Regions from separate parts of the Homo sapiens genome. Here region 1 is linked to region 2. The links come from fine-mapping of genetic effects on gene expression. A gene starts in region 2. The other region holds a variant in brackets. All regions are shown on one strand. Distances are from middle to middle. Region 1 overlaps LOC101929719 (a long non-coding RNA gene). Region 2 holds the start of SRA1 (steroid receptor RNA activator 1).

Region 1 (3,027 bases), 390 kb after region 2:
TTATAGTAAGTTCTTTCTATGATCTCTGCCTACCCCACCATCATGAAGAATTTCTTCTTTCTTTCTTTCTTTTTTTTTTTTTTGAGATGGAGTTTTGCTCTTATTGCCCAGGCTAGAGTGCAGTGGCACAATCTCGGCTCACTGCAACCTCTGCCTTCCGGTTTCAAGCAATTCTCCTGCCTTAGCCTCCCAAGTCACTGGGATTACAGGCGCCTGCCACCATGCCCAGCTAATTGTTTTTGTATTTTTAGTAGAGACGGGGTTTCACCATGTTGGTCAGGCTGTTCTCGAACTGCTGACCTCGTGATCCACCCACCTCGGCTTCCCAAAGTGCTGGGATTACAGGCATGAGCCACCGTGCCTGGCAGAATTTCTTTCTTCCAGAAGTTTTATAGTTTTTTTTTTAATAGTTCTTTGATTTATTTTGAGTATGGTATGAAGTAAGGATTGAAATGCATTGCATTCCATATGGATATTCAGTTATTCCAACACCATCTGTTGAAAAGTCCATCTCTTTACCTGTAGTTATTTAAATTTTGTTGTATTGGTCTCTCCTACTAGTCTATAAGTTTCATATATTGTTCTAATGTAACCTGGGCTCTTCTCTATCCCTGCTACCTTCTTACAGGTAGAGAAAGCAGAGAAAGAGCATGCTTGCAAGTTAATTCAGGACATGATCCCAGGGAGCAGGAATAGGGGACTGGGGAGACTCATGAAGTAGGAACAAGGGAAAGCCAGTGCCATGGTGTGTTATAGAGCTGGTCACCACTGTGGGCAGCTGGGGCTTGACCCAGCTGGGATGTGATGAGGAGCAGTGTAGAGTGCACCTCCTAGTTGTCCACTGAGTGTCAGAGAAGAAAGCACATAGCCACCAACCCCAGCCGCCAAGGGCCCAGGGTTACTCCCAAGGGGTTAACATCCTCAGACATCCAGTTTGCAGTACTGGAGTCCAGGGAGAAGCCCCAGCAGAAGGCAAGAGCAGAGCCGTGTGGAGCAGCTGAGCCTCGGTGCGTTTACCTGCTCCAAGCTGGTTGCCACAGTGATGGCTGAGTAAAACGTGGGCCAAAAGGATGACAGGAGGGTTACAAGAGGTTTCCCATACACATTCATTCCACAAATATTATTTCCTTCTATATGCCAAGCACTGTGTTAAGCACTGGAGATAGCCATCAAAAAGCCAAGCCCTGTCCTTATAGGGAGACAGACAGGACGCAAGTCAACAATTGATATAATATTATATCAAGGAGAAATAAGTGCTATGAAGAAAATAAAACAGGATAAGGGAACCGAGGGTGAGCGCAGGGATGGGGCTCATTTTGACCACCAGGGAAGGCCTCTGAGGAGCTGACATTAGACAGAACCAAATGAGGAACTGAGCCATGTGTATACCCAGGGCAAGAACATTCCAGGTGGAGGGAACCGCAGGTGAAAGACTTGAGGGAGGAACAAGCTTAGGGCATTAGAGAAACAAGGAAGTCACTGTGGCTGGAGCAGAGTGAGGGGAAGAGGCATAAGAGATCAGGAGAGGCAGCCTGGCAGGCCCTTTGAGTTTGAATTTTATTCTGAGTGTGATGGGAAGCCACTCGAAGTATTTAAGAAAGGTTATAGGCCGGGCACAGTGGCTCATGCCTGTAGTCCCAGCAC[T/A]TTGGGAGGCTGAGGTGGGCAAATTGCTTGAGCTCAGGAGATTGAGACACACCTGGGCAGCATGGTGAAACCCCATCTCTAAAAAAATACAACCCCAAAACCCCAAAATTAGCTGGGTGTGGCAGTGTGCACCTGTAGTCCCAGCTACTTGTGAGGCTGAGAGGCTGAGGTGGGAGGATTACTTGAGCCCAGGAGGTTGAGGCTGCAGTGAGCTATGATCACACCACTGCACTCCAGCCTGGGCAACAGAGCAAAACCCTGTCTCAAAAAAAAAAAAAAAAAAAAAAAAAAGAGGGTTATGACCTGGTCTTATTTATGTTTTAAAAGTCATGTGGGTGAGACCGGCCTGGCCAACATGGTAAAACCCAGTCTACTAAAAATACAAAAATTAGCCAGGCATGGTGGCACACACCTGTAGTCCCAGCTATTTAAGAGGCTGAGGCAGGAAAATCGCTTGAACCCAGGAGGTGGAGGTTGCAGTGAGCCAAGATTGCGCCACTGCACTCCAGCCTGTGCGACAGAGTGAAACGCTGCCAAAAAGAAAAAAATTATGTGGGGTACCATTACACACCTATAGTGGGGCAGGGCTAAAATCCTAAACACAAAAACAAAAGAAGCGGTAATATCCAGTGCTGGCAGGGATCCAAAGAAACTGCAGCTTTCACACTGCTGGTGGGAATGCAAAATTTGTATAGTCAGTTTGCAAGAGTTTGGCTATTTCTCATAAATATGCCCTTACCATACAACCCAGCAATCCCACTTGTAGGTATTTTCCCACAGTGAAATGATACTTCTGTTCACACAAAAACCTGTACACAAATGTTTATAGTGACTTTATAATTGTCCAACAACTGGAAACAATTCAAATGTGTTTCAACTGGTAAATGTATAAACTGTATAAACTGTGGTACAGCCATATAAAAAGGAATGAACTATTGGTAATGTGTGCAACAACTTCAAGGGACCTTGAGGGTGTTATTCTTGGTGGAAAAATTCAATATAAAAATGTTAGATACAGACCAAGGCAGGCGGATCACAAGGTCAAGAGATTGAGACCATCCTGGCCAACACAGTGAAACCCCATCTCTACTACAAATACAAAAAATAGCTGGGCGTGGTGGTGCGCACCTGTAATCCCAGCTACTTGGGAGGCTGAGGCAGGAGAACTGCTTGAACCCGGGAGGCGGGGGTTGCAGTGAGCCAAGATTGCACCACTGCACTCCAGCCTGGAGACAGAGCAAGACTCCGTCTCAAAAAAAAAAAAAAAAAAAAAGAAAAAAGAAAAAATGTTAGATAACTATGTGATTTCCTGTATATAACGATCTCAAAATGACAAAACGACAGAGATGGAGAACACATTCATGGTTGCCAGGGGATAGAAAG
Region 2 (2,500 bases):
CTCTGGGTCCATGCCTAACTCTGTACCGTTTTATTCCTCAAGGCCTATAGCCTGTCACTCCTTGAAGCCTTCTCTGCCTGTCCCTCCGATCCTTGTCCACCGTCTATTTATTGCCCAATTTATTGTTTATACGGATGACTGGGAGGCACTGCACCACAACGTAGGACCCTGGCTCCCCTTTCCTTGGGTCCTTGTGTTCCTTGCCCCTGTCCAACCCTGGACAGTTGGCTCTACCTCAGTAACACTTTATAGCAAAATCAGTGCAAATAAAAATCCCTCAGTGACCTCACTGGATGTGAGTATATTGGGCCTGGGACAGGGCTGGGGGCTAACACCCTGTGTGAGATGAGTGTCTTTGTGTCTGTGCTTGATGTTGGTGGCTCTCTGTAGTCACATGACAGCATGGGTGTGATGGAGATCTGACTTCATTCAACAAACATATTTTCTAAGGAGTTCCCTGTGCCAGGCACTAAGCTGGGCACTGGGAATGTAATAAAATAGTCAAGGTCCCACCTTCTAAGACTGTCCGACAGGGAAACGAACAAGAGTCAAATAAGGCAGAAGATGTGATGTAATACACCTACGAAATCTCAGAGGGTTGTAGGGTCGTGGGAGCTCAAGTGAGACACTTAACCTGGCCTGAGACATTCCAGAAGGCCTCCTGAAGAACTGACATCTGAACTGAGAACTGAAGGAAGATGAGTACTAGTGAGGCTACCGGACGTGAATGTGGAGATTGTGCAGGGCAATGCAAGAGGAGGCTGTAGAAGTCAACCTGGCTAGATCACAGCGGGGTGTATGTGGGGCAGGAGCTTCTTTGTTTGAATTTGCTCCTGAGAGGATGAGGCCTCCTAGAGCACTGGCTCCTGGACAGCAACCTCCTTTGGTGCCTTGTGACCAGGGCCCTGATGGTTCATTAGATGGAGCCTTCGAGTCTTAGGGAGTTGCCGCAGGGTCCCCACAGCGGCTCCCGACGGTTGTGAACCAGCATCCATCCTCCACGGATTCCGGCAACCCGCCTGGCCCTGGACGTGTCTCAACTGGCCCGCGTGAGGGGCCGCCCCGGAAATGACGCGCTGCCCCGCTGGCCAAGCGGAAGTGGAGATGGCGGAGCTGTACGTGAAGCCGGGTGAGCGCAGCCGGCGGGCTAGGGCACTAGGTTGTCGCCCCGGCCTAGGCTGGGGGCGGTTGCGGCGCTTAGTATGGACCCTCTGTCTCCCCCAGCCCCAGTATAAGCTAACAGTGGAGTTCCGGGCTCGCTTCACACATCCCTCGCCTCCGCAGGCAACAAGGAACGCGGCTGGAACGACCCGCCGCAGTTCTCATACGGGCTGCAGACCCAGGCCGGCGGACCCAGGCGCTCGCTGCTTACCAAGAGGGTCGCCGCACCCCAGGATGGATCCCCCAGAGGTGCGTGGGGCCCCTGTGCTCGGAGACAGACGGAGAATGGGGGGGGGGGGGTGTAAGGCATAAGCCTGTTTGGAAGGCTTTTTTCTCTCCCCGAGGGCTCCTTAAGGAGAGAAGTTTTGGGGCTCCAGTAAGGGTCTCAGAGCAGGTGCTTTTCCGAGCCCCTTCTCTGCTGCTCAGGTTAATAAATGGTGTATTGATTTAAAAAGACTATTTTTTCATCCTAGATGATCTTATCCAGACCTGTGGCTTTTAATATAGTTTTAATCCTGAAGTTATTTTTCTTTGTTAACCTATACCTCTTGCCAGAACCGTATAGTGGCATATTCATTTGTCCATTCTGTCTTCACTTAGGTATATGATAATCGTCAGACTTCACAGTTTTTCATTCATTTAATCACTGTTATTTACTGAGCACTTCTATAAGTCAGGCACTGTTTGAGGGCGAACTAGACAGCAGTGAGAAAAAAAAAAAAAAGATCTCTGCTTTCAGGAAGTCCACGTTGCAGCACTGGAGATGGGCTGAAAGATGAAATAGTGGTGAGGGTGCTACAGAAAATAAGCGGTGATGTAATATGACTGGGTAACGAGGTGTCTGAGGGGCTGACATTTAAGCCACACAAAGATCATGTACAAAAGCATTCCAAGCAAAAGAAACAGCTGCAAAAGGAATAAGTTTGGCCAATTCAGAGACTGATGAAATACAGAGTGGCTGGCTACAGCATAGTGGGCTTTGTAAAGCAGGATGAGGAATTTGTATTTTAATCTACATAAAGTTAGAAGCCATTGAAAAGTTTAAAGTAGAGGAGAGCCACCTTTCCCCCCGAGAATTTTCCAAGCCATTAAATGGGCTGTGCCGTGGCCCCCATAAAGGGGCTCAGGTTTGGTTCTTTCAGTGGCCCTCCATTCTCCACACCCTTTTTGCTGTAGAAGAATGATACAAGGCTTGGTTTCTTAAACTCAGCAGTATTGATAGGTTGTGGCCAGATAATTCTTTGTGAGGGACTTTCCTGTGTCTTATGTTAATCAGCAACTCTGACTTCTACCCAAAAGATGTCAGTAGCATCCACCCAGTTGTGATAGCCAAAAGTGT

Evidence for each region. PIP is the estimated chance that this variant, and not a neighbour inherited with it, causes the effect.
Region 1: its variant is the best candidate, but not a certain one, in a credible set for the expression of SRA1 in whole blood (TOPMed, PIP 0.51).

What each region holds. Positions count from the first base shown.
Region 1 is chr5:140,160,836-140,163,862 of GRCh38, reverse strand. All of the region lies in intron 1 of LOC101929719 (a long non-coding RNA gene), which reads right to left. Among named protein-coding and RNA genes, the nearest start is that of CYSTM1, 13 kb to the left of the region's middle. The variant T/A (reference allele first, on the strand shown) is at 1,645.
Region 2 is chr5:140,556,057-140,558,556 of GRCh38, reverse strand. It overlaps SRA1 (steroid receptor RNA activator 1), which reads left to right and starts at 1,084. Exons shown (of 5, transcript NM_001035235.4): 1 at 1,084-1,129; 2 at 1,285-1,410. The coding sequence starts at 1,105. It overlaps APBB3 (amyloid beta precursor protein binding family B member 3), which reads left to right. Exons shown (of 13, transcript NM_133173.3): 13 at 1-289. RefSeq lists enhancers at 655-714, 805-1,164, 1,030-1,851 and a silencer at 2,375-2,500.